Linked DNA regions of Homo sapiens. The protein of the gene in region 2 purifies or fractionates together with the protein of the main gene of each other region. This does not show direct contact. Each region holds a gene or a part of one and is shown on either strand. Other genes may lie near its edges.

Evidence for each region. Proteins that work in one complex are often made in the same cells at the same time.
Region 1: the proteins of PTP4A2 (region 2) and PRDX4 purify together in Homo sapiens (affinity purification with mass spectrometry, with the first as the bait; one large-scale study listed by BioGRID). This does not show direct contact.
Region 3: the proteins of PTP4A2 (region 2) and EFL1 purify together in Homo sapiens (affinity purification with mass spectrometry; 2 studies listed by BioGRID and IntAct, with this or other methods). This does not show direct contact.
Region 4: the proteins of PTP4A2 (region 2) and CNNM2 purify together in Homo sapiens (affinity purification with mass spectrometry; 5 studies listed by BioGRID and IntAct, with this or other methods). This does not show direct contact.

The regions. Positions count from the first base shown.
Region 1 is NC_000023.11:23,670,493-23,673,992, reverse strand, and holds part of PRDX4 (peroxiredoxin-4 precursor), read right to left. Parts: intron 2,465-3,500; coding exon 2,347-2,464; intron 1-2,346. UniProt on the Homo sapiens protein: Thiol-specific peroxidase that catalyzes the reduction of hydrogen peroxide and organic hydroperoxides to water and alcohols, respectively.
Region 2 is NC_000001.11:31,928,369-31,931,868, reverse strand, and holds part of PTP4A2 (protein tyrosine phosphatase type IVA 2), read left to right. Parts: intron 1-726; exon of another isoform or gene 727-936; intron 937-3,500.
Region 3 is NC_000015.10:82,256,235-82,259,734, forward strand, and holds part of EFL1 (elongation factor-like GTPase 1), read right to left. Parts: intron 2,922-3,500; coding exon 2,854-2,921; intron 1-2,853. UniProt on the Homo sapiens protein: GTPase involved in the biogenesis of the 60S ribosomal subunit and translational activation of ribosomes.
Region 4 is NC_000010.11:102,916,864-102,921,093, reverse strand, and holds the start of CNNM2 (metal transporter CNNM2), read right to left. Parts: upstream 2,801-4,230; 5' UTR 2,614-2,800; coding exon 993-2,613; intron 1-992.

The DNA of each region.
Region 1 (3,500 bases), on a different chromosome or scaffold from region 2:
TGTGAGACATGGTCAAGAAAGTTTGAAAAACATAGACTTAGTTAGGGCACAAGTTCCTACCAGATACCAATACAGGATTTTAACATGTTTCAGGTATTCAGGTACAGCACTGTCATGTCCAAGTAGACAGTTCTAATCTCGGATGATGTCCCTGGAAACCTGGGCTATAAAATGTATTTTTAATATTTTCTAAAGGGTAGGAATGGTCAGCCTCAGCCTTCCTTTTTTTTTTTTTTTGTGGCAGGGTCTCACTCTGTCACCCAGGCTGGAGTGCAGTGGCGCGATCTCAGCTCACTGCAACCTCCGCCTCCCGGGTTCAAGCAATTCTCCTGCCTCAGCCTGCTGAGTAACTGGGACTACAAACGCCCACCACCACGCCCGGGTAATTTTGTTTGTATTTTCAGTAGAGACGGGGTTTCACCTTGTTGGCCAGGCTGGTCTAGAACTCCTGACCTCAGGTGATCCGCCCATGTTGGCCTCCCAAAGTGCTGGGATTACAGGCGTGAGCCACTGCACCCAGCCTCTGCCTTTCTTCTTATTTCAAGGAATGCTACCTAGAGATACATTTGACCAACTTCTTAGTGAAGACAGAAAAAGTTTTGGCAGGAAACTGAAGGGTTACGTTTGTAACTTTCCTCCTTGTAGACTGTGGCAAATGCCCCAGAATTCTTCCTTCTCTAACCAGGCACAGTCCAGCATTACATGAAAACAGGAAGAGGCTATCTTAGCTCCTTGTCCCAGAAGACCATTGCTAACAACATGCTCCAATTAACTATCTCTTACCCATTATGGAGTTATGAATAACAATGGAGAAACACAGAACATATTTTTCTGCTACATTAGACTAACTTCCAAATTCAGGGTGTTAGTCGTATATATTTAACATACATGTTAACCTTCTGGTTTTATAACAACATGAATTTAGAAGGCCTGTCATTTTTTATGTCTACTGAAATTTCTACTTCTGGTTTCTATTAGAAATTAAGCTATACTTAAAAAAATCAAGTCACAATATGAGTTGATTAGAAAGAAGCAAGTTCTTATAATTTAAAAGATTATATATTATGCAGACTCATAACTTTAGTCTCAATGTAATAATTTTCATGAGAATTCTTCCTTTGTGGCTTAGAGCAGGGGTTGGCAAATAGGTCAATAGGCCAAATCCAGCAGAAAAAATTTGTTAATCCCTGGCCTAGAAACAACCTATAGCAATGAGCTTAAGTATACCCTCCCTGCAAGTTTAAATTTGATCTATGTAGTTCCAGATTAGTCCTAATGGAAAAAGGCACAGTGGCAAAGATAGAGGAGGAAACTTCTAGTTATTTGTTGTAACCAAAAAGTAAGTTCCAAGAGAATAAAAGATAAAAATTGACATAACTCTTTTTGGTCTCTTCTCACTTTCATGAATTTTGAAAAACACTCAAAATAGTGTTTTGTAAAATAAAATTAAATCCTCAACGTGAATAAAGCTGTAAGGGTATTTACTTTTAGTCAACTTTCTGACCATATACAAAAACGCTCACTGTCACAGAGTTAAAAAAAGACGAGAAACCCCACAATAACCATAACATATACACAGGTGTTATTCCTTATTCCTTAAGCAGTATATAATATTTTCAGCAAAATGTTCAAATCCCAGAAAAGCAACAGATGCAGCAAAGAATAAAAATGGAAAAACCACAGTTACATGGTATCACTAGAGAAAATGGCTTAATTTTCTTTTTCTTTTCTTTTTGAGATGGAGTCTCGCTGTCGCCAGGCTGGAGTGCAGTGGCACTATCTCAGCTTACTGCAACCTCCGCCTCCAGGGTTCAAGCAATTCTCCTGCCTCAGCCTCCCGAGTAGCTGGGACTACAGGCGCGTACCACCACGCCCAGCTAATTTTTGCATTTTTAGTAGAGATGGGGTTTTACCATGTTGGCCAGGATGGTCTCGATCTCTTGACCTTGTAATCCACCTGCCTTGGCCTCCCAAAGTGCTGGGATTACAGAATTAATTTTCTAATCAAGAGAGATACAGTAAAAAGAATTATGGCATAGGTCTTGCTATTAAATGCTTTCTAATATATTATCAGTCCATTTTCTTGCCTTAGTAGGTATAGCTTAATGAATATATTGTAGCTTTCCTCTAATTATTCCATTATAACATAATCATGTAGACATAAGTATTGAGGTCGGTGTGTTATGACTCTGAAATATATGGTAGATGTTACCTTTTTAAATACATTTCTTTACTTCAGCTTGCCTTTTTAAAAACCAAGAGCTGAACAAAATAATTTGTTTGATACTCCTGAAAAATAATTGATAAAGACTGAGATTTTACTAGCTATTTACATGTATTACTTACAAATCAAGTGGGTAGAAGAAGAAAACCAAGTATTTCCCACGATAATCAGTTAACTTCAGCTCCTTAAATTCTCCATCGATCACAGCTGTTCCTTCCCAGTAGGGCGCTGGCTTGGAAACTAAGAAAATAAAATACATGATGTTCTGTAACACTGAGAAAGTTGGTGGAATGGTAGAAGGACATCTTTAGAAAATCACTAAAAATCAGGGCTACCTTTAGATCTCTTTGGCAGTCTGGTGAAGCTTACAGACTTCTTAAAAGAGTGTTATTGAATGCAAAAAGGAAAATACATAGAATTACAAAAGAAACCAATTGTATTTAAATGCAATTATAAAAATATTAAAAAAAATTGGTGATATCATAATACATGTGCTCTATAACACTTCAAAACTGCAAGATCTAGTTGTAATCTGACAACTACGTAAGATAATGATGAGTGAAAATGGTGTTTCAGGATACCTGCGATAACCATATGTAGCAAGAAAATAAGTGATTCTATTGGTGAAAGGTACAAGCAAGTGCTGCTGAAGATAGTGTAGTTTGTTGCTGACATTCATAATAGAAGGAAACACTAAATTTCAGATGGGGATTAGTGAAAATAAATACTTTTTTCCCCTATTCATGCTCACAGACCCCTTAAATTCTACCCTGCACTAAACCCTCCTGGATACTTCACTATAGTCCCGCTTCAAGTTGTCAACTTCCTACATTTCAAATAATTAGATTTTCCTTTCTCTAATGGCAGTCTTCCAGATGTACTAGTTTGTCCAGCTTCTGACATACACATGGAGGACCTGCTGCAGATGAGGCTACACAAAATGAGGAGGGAATGTACAAATATGTCAGGCCAGAAGTGTAAAATCCCAGACCATGGGATCATTTTCCTAGAGGGCTTTGAAAGAAGACTCCCTTGAACAGGTTTCAAGTGACCCAATGGAAACTGAACAGTTCATGCTGCTCTCTTGTAAGGGCGTACAGTAATTTTAGCCAACACACTTAGATACTAATGCACCTTCATGCTCTGTTAACACATTCAGATAGCACTTATACTTTCAGACCCCTTACAAACACTGAAGTCAATGCTTGCTTCTAAGTTTGGCTAAGGGTCCTAGAAAGTAAGGCTTATACTTCTCTGTAACAGCCACCATTTATGG
Region 2 (3,500 bases):
GACTGGTTAGTGCAGAAGGATATGAGTCACCAGCAGGATTTGTCAGCAAATAGAGAAGGATATGATGGAGAAACAATAGATTCTAGTGACATTATTTTCATTCCACATGTGTGGTTACAAACAAGTTTCCTTTGGTGATTAGTTTAAATTATGCAAATTGGGTCTTTCTGGGTGAAAAGTACTTTAAATATAAGTCACAGGCTATATTCTCAATTGTTTTCTTAGATTGGATCTTCATTTGGAGGTCATCAACAGGTAGAATTTAGTTAAACTCGTTATCTGTTGACTATGATTTAGTAAGTTGAAAGAAAATTTTTGTTAAGCTTTTTGGTAATTACGGAGCTGCTTGCTCAGTAGATCAGGGGAGGCCCATAAATATGGCAATATTTGCTCTTTTTCTCAGTGAGCAAAGAGTTGCTCTCTTACCACTACTCTGCTTTGAAATTCCTAAGAGCTTTTATTGCATTTGAATTGGTCTGAAATTCTCAGCCCGGTCAAGGCTTCTCCAGAGTTATCTAACCAAAGACTAAGCACCTTTCTCAAGTCACACTACCATGGTTCCTTCACTGTTTCTACCAGTTTTCTATTATAAAAGTTTTACCTTTCTTCAGAAGTCTTAATCCTACTCCATTCTTCTCACGCTTACTTTGTATCTTTAAAATTTGTGGTGGTAATATGAAAACTTAATACCAATCAAGCATTTTTCACCCACGTTGATTCTTCTAGGAGCTTGATCCTGGATAGTGTTTGTATGATGTGCACACGTCTCTGCAAATGCTTGTTTGAAGATTGGCTGTGCTGCATTTTGGTATAATTGGGAGGTGACATATTGTCCCTTATCTCAGTAAACATTTGGAGGAAGAGGACGAGAAAGATTGAATTTTGCATTCTTTAATTGGGAAGAAAAGGAAGGTGAATCCATGTTGAGCTGAGCTAGTGAGTAAAGAATAACTTCTTGACATGGCATTATAGAGTTATTTCACCATTTTTATTTCACGTTAATATGTAGTATGAAATATTTACTTTCACTGTGTGGTTTTTAAAGATCGTAATGTTACTGTGTTTTGTGAAAGGATGCCATTATTGGACAATTAGTGGATAGACAGTACATTTTAAAAGGCCACCAGCAGCTTCAAATAGAATGATTTGGATTCTTGACTGTTTATCTTGTATTGTACTCAGTACACAAACATATGTCTGTGAACTATAATGTAATTTATAAAAAGCAAGTTTAGGAGAGGAAGTGAAGTGTAACTTACCCAGTTATAGGGGAAACTTGGATCAGAGTGCCTGAACAGCAGAAACATTTCTGGGGCTCAAACAAAATAATTTATGTTGACAAGATGTATTTTGGGATGTTTTTATTCTGTGTCTTGTCCATAGAGAGTTTCCCTCACTCTCTTTGGGGATTAATACTGGAACAGGACCTTTAAATACGCTCAATACATTTGACAAAATGGGGAAATGAAAAGAGTTAAGTTGACCCATAAACTACTAAGTTCTGAGATATGGTATTTTTTATTTTTTTTTTGAGATGGAGTCTCACTGTCGCCCAGGTTGGAGTGCAGTGGCACAATCTCGGCTCACTGCAGGTTCCGCCCCCCCGGGGTTCACGCCATTCTCCTGCCTCAGCCTCCCTAGTAGCTGGAACTACAGGCGCCCGCCACCTCGCCCGGCTAATTTTTTGTATTTTTAGTAGAGACGGGGTTTCACCGTGTTAGCCAGGATGGTCTCGATCTGCTGACCTCGTGATCCGCCCGCCTTGGCCTCCCAAAGTGCTGGGATTACAGGCGTGAGCCACCACGCCCGGCCCGAGATGGTATATTTTAGGTAATGTGAACAGTAGCCGGAAAGTTTTTGCTTTGCATGCTACTCCTGTGCTGTAGGTTATTTTGAAAGGTGATTCAAATAACCTTTCCCAAGTATCTATTTTGCAACCTCAGGGAACTTGCAGCTGTTACAGCCATTTTAACTGTCCTGATATAGCTCAGAAAACATTTCAATGTGGTGTTGACAGGCTGACTCCAGGTGTTCTTTTGGATTTTTACTACTGAATTTGCTTTATTACAATTGAAGTTCAGAATCTTAAATTATTTATTAATGAAATTATTGATTCAATGGTTCTTGGGTTAATGTACATACAGTGATGTTGGAAACTAAATTAAAATGATTAAGACTTAAATTGTTCTCTGGAAAAATTAGCCTTTTGAGATTAAAGAAGGAAGGATGGGAGGAGGAAATAAAACAAATGTTAGGATTTAACTTTCTGGGGAAGCAACTGAATTGGAGATAGTTCCTATTCTTAAGAAGGTTACCAAAGTTATTTAGGAAAAGAATGTGCTTAAACTTTATAATAAAGGGGCTTGGGAGTCTTAAAATGCACATAAACTGAAGTCTTTAAACATAAACCCCATAGAAAAGATAGCCATGATACTTTTGTCACAAAAGTATGGATGAATAGAATCCATTTAGTAAAACTATTTAATGTAATTTTTAAAAGATTAACTGAAAACAATTAGATTAATACTCAATATAAGGATTGTGCTGTTAGGATTTTTTAATGTTATTACCAGTGCTATTCCAATACTTTTTAAAGAGAAAGTCGGCGTTGGCCATAGTGCTGTTAACCTGCATTTAAATTTTATTTATGAAAGGAAAAATACCAATTTTAGATAAGAGATTCATTTTGAGAATTGGAAATCTTTAGAGGAAAAATGGAGTACAAAATTGTAAAGTAAATATTTTTAAGTGTGGCCTGAAAATATTTAATGCAATTTTTGTCTTATAGTTATTTGTAGAGGTAGAAATTACTAGAAAAGGACAACCGTTAATCACCGGGGTACATGCACATCTAAAACCACTCCCTTTTCATTTTGGTGGGAACAGGGCCCACAGGACTTCAGTGAATAACTGTCACTGTTCTCAGAAGCAGGTGCGATTGTTGACTAATTGCTTCCCTTATCTTTCTGAGTGGCTGGCCATGTATCTTCTACTGGTTTTGAAATGTTAAGACATTTTCCCACCATCAAGGTCATGATTTCTTTTTATAGAACTGATTATTGATTTCTGTACTGGGACTTGAGTCTCAAGTTCCCTCCTTAAATGAGGAAGTGGAAAAGTGGGAATAACCAAGGGAGTAACTATGAAATTTTTTTTTTTTTTTTTTTTTTTTGAGACAGAGTTTCACTCTGTCACCCAGGCTGGAGTACAGTGGCACGATCTTGGCTCACTGCAACTTCCGCCTCCCAGGTTCAAGCAATTCTCCTGCTTCAGCCACCTGAGCTGGGACTACAGCCATGCGCCACAATACCTGGCTAGTTTTTGTATTTTTGGTAGAGACAGGGTTTTGCCATGTTGGCCAGGCTGGTCTTGAACTCCTGACCTCAGGTGATCCGCCCATCTTGGCCTTCCAAAGTGCTGGGATTACAGGCGTAAGCCATCGCGCCCGGCCAAAAAATTTTTTTTAACAGTAAAAAAAGCATCTTATTTTTGGCTTATTC
Region 3 (3,500 bases), on a different chromosome or scaffold from region 2:
AAGTAGCTGGGATTACAGGCATGAGCCACCATGCCCGGCACAGGTACATTTATTATGCTATTTAAATGGTTTACGTTTTTAAATTACTGTATATTACCTATTTATTGCTCACGTATACTTCTTTTCAACAGTTTTCGTATCCTGAAACCTGCCAAATTGTTACTAATATCCTAGCAATTTATCTACATTTTTGTTTTCTTCCTTTCCAAAATTCACACTTTTTATTTTTCTTTCCAGCTTTATCACTGCAACTAGAACCTCCAGTACAATCTAAAGTAGAAGTTATAACACAATGAGCAGAAGGGTGTGACAGCCATTCTTGCCTTATTCCTGGCTATGAATAGAGAAGTTTTAACACTTCATCATTAAGTTCAATCTTCATTTTAGGTTTTTTATAAATATCCCACATCAGATTACAGAAGTTCTCTTCTGTAACTACATTGCAAAGAGGTTTTATCACAATAGATGTTGAATTTTACTACATGTCTTTATATCTGTTGAAATGATCATGATTTTCTTCCTTTAATCCATTAATATAGTGAAATTACATGTTAAACCAATCTTGAATTCCTTGGGATAAACTCGATTTGGATATGAATAATCATCTTTTTATACTATGCTGAATTGTTTGTTAATGAGGATGATAATTTTTGCATCCATAATCATAAGGTTGGTATATAATTCTCCTATATTGTACTATCCTTAACAGACTTTTGGTATCAAAGTTATGCTATCTTCATATGATTTGGAGAATACTGCCGATTGTTGGGTTTTTCTCTGCTATATTTTGAAATGGTTTAAGTAGGACTGAAATTATTCTTTGAATGTTTGGCAGAACTAGAGAGTTAAACCATCTGGGTCTTTACTTTATGGAAAGATTTTTGCCAGCCAATTCAATTTCTTAAATGACTATAGAATAATTCAAGTTTCCTATTTCTTCTTGACTCCATTTTAGCAAGTTATGTTTTCCAGACATTTTTCCATTTTAGCACTTTTAAGTTTACTGGCACAGAGTTGTTCATTATATCCTATTATTACCTTATTAACTTCTGCAGCATTTTTCTTTCTGGGTATCACATATTTCTGCCTCCTCTCTTTTCTTCTTGATCATCTTGCTGGTGTTTTGTCAGTTGTGTTACTCTTCTTTAAAGTCATTCATTCAAAAATATTTATTTATATATACTATGCTTTCTATATGTCCAAAGTACAGTGAGCCACATTAGGAACATTACCAGGTCAAAAGTGTCAAATGTTCCTCAACAATGTCAATGAAAAACAAAACAAAAAAGTTTCCTAGTCAAGAGAATCAAAAATTGTCTATATTGCTAGTAATTGTTTAAATTAATAACTTTATATTTTTAGAGCACCTTTAAGTTTACAGAAAAATTGACTGAAGGTTCCCACATACTCTCTCCTCCCACCCACACAGTTTCCCCTATTATATCTATCTTGTATTAGCATATGGTGTGATACCTTTGTTACAACTGATGAACCAATATTGATGCATTATGATTAATTAAAGTCCATAGTTTACATTAGGGTTCACTCTTTGTATTTGTTAGCTGGGTTAATCTTTTCCAAAAACAAACTTCTGGCTTCACTGATCCTTTCTATAAAATGTCTGTTTACTATTTCATTAATTTATGCTTTACTATTTCCTTTCATCTACTTACTTCAGTTTTGTACTTTCTCTAAATTCTCAAGTGGGGAAAATATAAGCATTTCATTATTTCACTCAACCTAGTTTTCTTCAGCCTCCTCTAGATAGTATCTTGGGCCAGCTTCCCTCCCAACCCACACATCAATTCCCAAATCGATCTTCAAGTCTATTGGGTCTACCCTGTGGATTCAATTTTGCTTCTCCGTCTCCTCTTCTCTCTATTCTCTGTCACCTGATAAACCCTATTGATCATATCCTAAATTCATTATGGAAACGAATATATCTTTATTTTTCTACTGCCAAGTAAATTATTCCAAGCCCTTTCAACTCATAGCTACAAATAAAGATCTCTTTAATTTTATTTCCTCAAACGCTATTTTCAGGCTAGGTGTGGTGACTCACACCTGTAATTCCAGCACTTTGGGAAGTCAAGGCAGGAGGATTGCTTGAGCCCAGGAGTTCAAGATCAGCCTAGGGAACATGGCAAAACCCTGTCTCTACAAAAAATTAGCCAGGTGTGGTGGTGTGCACCTGTAGTCCCAGGTACCCAAGAGGCTGAGGTGGGAGGATCACCTGAGCCCAACAGGGCGAGGTTGCAGTGAGCCGTGCATGATCACACCACTGCACTCTAGCCTGGGCAACAGAGTGAGATCCTGTCTCAAAAACAAAAACCAAAAAACCCACTATTTTCATCACAATCCTCAGGCACAAGCAGCTTTCCTTTGATACTTAGGTTAACTTTTAAGGTCTTCTATAATCTTATTCTCCCTGCCAGTATGTTTTCTCTGTCACTAGTCTCTAGGCAAACACTCCACTCAAATAGAGCACAACACACAAATTAGCCTTTATCCGTCTTATTTCCCACTACCTGGTAGCTTTTCTGTCTTCTCCTCAAACCACTCAACTCATTCACCTACAAAGAATCTCTTGCGCTGTGAAATCTTCCACAATGGTGTATCATTTGCTTGCTGCAAAAACTCACTTTTGCACTTAGGATAAAGCAATACAAAGCAATACAGAAGTAACTATTTTTCTCCTCAGCATTTTTATCTTGCAAAATGGATTGGCAGCTTTTAGACGCAAGAATTATGTTTTATACCCTTTTGGATGGCTGAAGAACACAGAAAATGGTTCATCACATTGTTGATAGCTAATACTGAAATGCAACAAGTATTTATAAAATAATAACATACCTTGCCTGCTAGGCGGCTGGAGATGATTCCATTGCTAGATATAAGACAGTCAGCCAGAGTAGTTTTTCCTGTTAAAATAGCAACATCAATTCAAATCTATATCTTTTTTAAAAGGGGTCATGGATCATACCTATAGATTTAAAATCTGGTCATAAGAATTGGTTTAGTAAAGATTTTCTATTTACCTATGCTAGGTGACAAAAGAGATTTATTAGACTTTTGAACAGAATATCATCTGGAAGGACACAGAGGCTAGCACTCTATAATGCTGTAATCTTATCTCCAACCCTGTGGATCTACTCAACCTCATCTGAAAAGTTGTCAAGTAACTTTAGAGAACATACTCTTTTGCCATATTTCCCCATGCATGGCCTCAGCTGGAATTTGCTAAACTGTCTTAAGAAAATACTTACTTATCAAAGAAATTCAGGAACATTATCCATATCTCTTACTGTTTGTAATATAGCATGTGGAGGGCATAAACATACTGTAACAACCAATGAAACCTAGTATCCAAATCTAAACCTAGGAATCTACTTTAAAGCAAAAGAATCTTCGAATATATTTATAGTTACTTTTATTAAGCAGACTACATACAACTAAAGTCTATGAGATTTTATGTGATATAAACAGGTGATTCTGTGTAA
Region 4 (4,230 bases), on a different chromosome or scaffold from region 2:
AACAAATATAAATGATGTACTGTATAAGCATCTTGGAACGGTGAGAGTTGACGGAGACATACTTCAACTTAATGTATCGGATGATCAAGGTGGAAAAAAAGAACACGTTAAACTGAAAGAGTCAAGAAATAAATAAGCCCCAATAGAGGGATTCATCCCACTGTTAAAGGTTCAAGCTTTCTGCCAAAATCACACTTGGTTTGGGCAACTGTAACTGTTGTCAGATAAATGTAAACAAATAGTGAAGAAGGCTACGGGACATACAGCCTCTTCACAAAAGGCTGGCTAACCTCTAATCTTTCCAAGTTACATATTAATAACTTTAATTTAAAACAACAACAACAACTCTTTTCTAGCTAAGAGAAGTCACATCCAAAATGGGTGATTTTTTTTGGCGATACTTAGTTTACCCCACCCCTTACCCTCAAAGGCAGACCTCAATCTTCCCCACAAGTTGCCAGGCAAGCAGGAACAGAAGCTATAGAAAATGTACTTCGATCTTTGAAAGGCCAGTGTGGATGTTTAAGGAGGAGAAAAAGGACTGCACTGGGTTTACAAAAGCTAGTTACATGTTTTCCAAATGCCTGTGATTAAAGTCCACCAAATGGCATGGCATCAGCCAGCCCCTACCTTCACCTACTCACTGAGAACCCAGACAATGAAGGCGGCAGACCCCTCAAGAACAGAGGCCCACACACGGGACCAAAAAAAAAAAAATAAATAAGTGTCATGCACAGAAATTACACAGCCTGCTTTTTGATAATGGGAAAAAGTAAGTGATGGCAGTCTTGTGCTTTAAAATAACCTAGTAGCACTTACTAGTTCAATCCATCCCCAAATCCACGCCACCCTTTCAACTTTGCAATTAAGAGGGAGAAGGAGAAATCCCGGTCAACTCGCCTTGGGGGGTTGGTCTGAGGGTAGAGGACTCAAGTAGGGAGGAGGATGGAGAGAGAAAGAGCAAGCCAATGAAAGAGACCAAAATTTCCCACCTTTCTTAAATTCTTCCAGCATAGCGTCCAACTTGGTGTCATTGAAAACAAAGTGCAAGGGGTGGTTATAAAATTTGGTGATGGTTTTCAGGGGGGTACAGTCATCGGGATCCACGAAGGCCAAGTCTTTGACAAACAGCAGGTCCACGATATTGGAGCGCTCCCCTTCAAACACTGGAATGCGGGTGTAGCCGCTCTCCATGATCTCAGACATGGTGTTGAAGTCCAGGATGGCTTCGCCGGTGATCATGAAGCAGTCCCGGAGTGGGGTCATCACGTCCTCCACCGTCTTGGTGCGGAGCTCCAGCGCCCCTTGGATGATGTTCAGCTCCTCCTTAACGAGGTCGTTGTAGGGATCGGTGACCCGGAGCATCTCCAGCAGTTTTTCCCGGTTATAGACGGTGCCTATCTCCTGGCCCAGGACGCAGTCCAGCAGCTTGCTGACCGGGTAGGAAGCGGGGAAGGTCATCATCATGAAAAACTTGGTGAGGAAGATGGTGTTGGCCCCCACAGCCAGGCCATGCCGGGAGCAGATGGCCTGGGGCACGATCTCTCCGAAGATGACGATACCGATGGTGGAGACTACCACGGCCACGAGGCCCGAGCCGGCGATGTCGTCGAGCAGGATGGTGAGCGTGGTGTTGACCAGCACGTTGCCCAGCAGCAGTGAGCACAGCAGGTAGTTGCCCTGCCTGCGCACCGGCTCGATGCGCTTGGCGTAATTCTTCTCCTTCTCCGTGCCGCAGTTCTGCACGATGCGCAGCTCCATCGGGTCCAGGGCCATGAGCCCCAGGTTGAGGCCGCTGAACATGCCCGACAGGCACAGCAGCAGCGAAATGAAGATCACCTGCAGCCAGAAGGGCAGCAGGAACTTCTTCTCTTCGCCTACGATCATCTTGGTGTCCTCGCCGTCGTGGTAAATCCAGGTGGTCTCGGCCCACGGGGGCGGCGGGAGCCCGGCCACCCCCGAGCCACCCTTGCCCCCGACGGCGCCACCCGTGGACCCCGAGCCGCCGGCGCCCAGGGCGGGCGTGGAGAGCGACGTGCACAGGTAATAGGACTTGCTCTTCTCCATCTTGCGTAGCGGTTTGATCTCGATCTCGATGATGCCCGAGGTGCGGCGGTTGAGAATGATGTGGGGCAAGATGATGATGTCTGAGGTGCGGATGCCGCATCGCTGGGGGCCGCTGTCCGGCTCTGGCGGCGCGGGGCCCCCCAGCCCGCGCTCCCCCGGGCTGTGGCGCCGCCGCTCGTGCTCGGTGAAGGCGATGCGGGACCACGTCTCGTTATTGATGTTCTGCCCGTACACCCGCAGCTTGACCCGGGTCCGTTCGCTCACCCGCAGCGCCCCCCCTTCCATGAACGACACGTCGTTCGTGTCCTCCAGTCGCAGCCCGATGATCACCGTCTCCTCATTCTCGCCCACCGCTGCGCAGCCGCCCGCACCGCAGCAGCAGCTCAGCAGGAGCAGCGGCAGCAGCCGCCCCGCAGCCGCCTGCAGGATCCCCCGGCCGCGAGCGCTGAGGCTGCGGCGCGCCGCCATCTTCCAAGTGGGCAGTGCGGCGGCTGCCTGCCCGCCCGCCATCTTTACTTTGGGTTCACAAGCGCCACAGCCAATCATAGGGTGGCTGCTCCAGCTGCGGCTTCATCCTTTCAACCCGGCGGCGCGAGCGCAGGTACCGGCCCCTGGGCGAGACTGCAACGGAGCGTCCGCGGCCAGTGCTCAGCAGTTCGCCTCCCTGACTGACACTGACTCCACCTCAGCCAGCTGAGGAACCCCGAGGCTCGCGGGAGGGAAAGAGGGAGGGAGAGGAGCGCCGGCTGCTCCCGCGAGAGGCAGGCCGACCAGCCAATCACAAGCGGGTGCCCGCCCTCCCAGCCAGGGGGCTGGAATGGGGGCGTGACCGTGTGCCGCTCCGCGGACCAATGGCAAGGTAAGTGGGTGGGGCGACGAGAGCCACCGTCCCCGTCTGCACGCCAAGTTTCCAACTGAAAGGCGCGTGACTCTTGTGTATGTGCGAGGGGAGGGGGCGTGGCCATCTGGGACTCGAGAGCCAGTCAAAGATGAGAGCTGAAGAAAAAGGGGCGTGGCATCCGTCCTGCTGCCAATGGGAAGGAGCCGTCCCTGGGGCCCGCGCTCCCCAGGGGCCCCTGTAGTAGATCCCGGAGCCTGGACCGGCCAGGTTTGGACTAAAGCCCTGCGGCGCAAGGCGGCAGGTTCCCGGTGCACCGGTTACTGGCTCTCCAGTTCTCAATTCGTAGGCACAAAGCCGCGCGCCCTCCTGCCCCGGAAGCCCGAGAAGCCAACTAGAGGCGGCTTGGGATGCACACAGCCTAAAAAGCCGGGGCACCGGCCGCTGTCCCCAACTCCACCTGCGCGGCGCTCCGCCGGGGTAAGCGGCGTCGGTGGCCCCGGCACAGCTGCGGACCAGCAGTCCTCGCGCCTCGAGACTCCTAGGGTACGGGCTCTCTGCGGCTCGCGATCACGTGGCGCCACCTGCGGGCAGCATGAGCGCCCTGCAACGCTTTCCAGGTCGGCGGCGTACCCCAAAAGGTGTGCAGAAGTTACGGATGGAGCGGTCAGGGGGACAGTTCCCCAAATTTCCTAGTCATAGAACCCCTACATATTATTGCTAGGAGTATATACTTCCTAGACCTTTTCCCATATTTACAGAGTGGGAAGGGCCCCGAATCTGTATTCCCAGCAGGAATTCAGGCAAGTTAAGGAAATGGGAGGGGGCAAGCATCCTAAACAGACCCACAGAGGCTCATTCTTAATCACACTGACCAAACTCTGCTAGGGTCTTAGGTCACTCAAGAGCAAAAAGTTCTGGAAACCTAGCTCCCCAGTACTCCCAACGTCACCTGGAGGTGACGAGGTAGCAGAGTAGCTGCCAAATTGGTCTTTTCCTTGAAACTTAAAACATTCAGGCCGGGCGTTGGTGGCTCACGCTTGTAATCCCAGTACTTTGGGAGGCCGAGGCGGGCGGAGCATGAGGTCAGGAGATCGTAGACCACGGTGAAACCCCGTCTCTACTAAAAATACAAAAAATTAACCGGGCATGGTGGCGGGCGCCTGTAGTCCCAGCTACTCGGAGAGGCTGAGGCAGGAGAATGGCGTGAACCCGGGAGGCGGAGCTTGCAGTGAGCCGAGATCGCGCCACTGCACTCCAGCCTGGGTGACACAGGGAGACTCCGTATCAAAAAAAAAAAAAGAAAAAAAAGAAACTTAAAACAT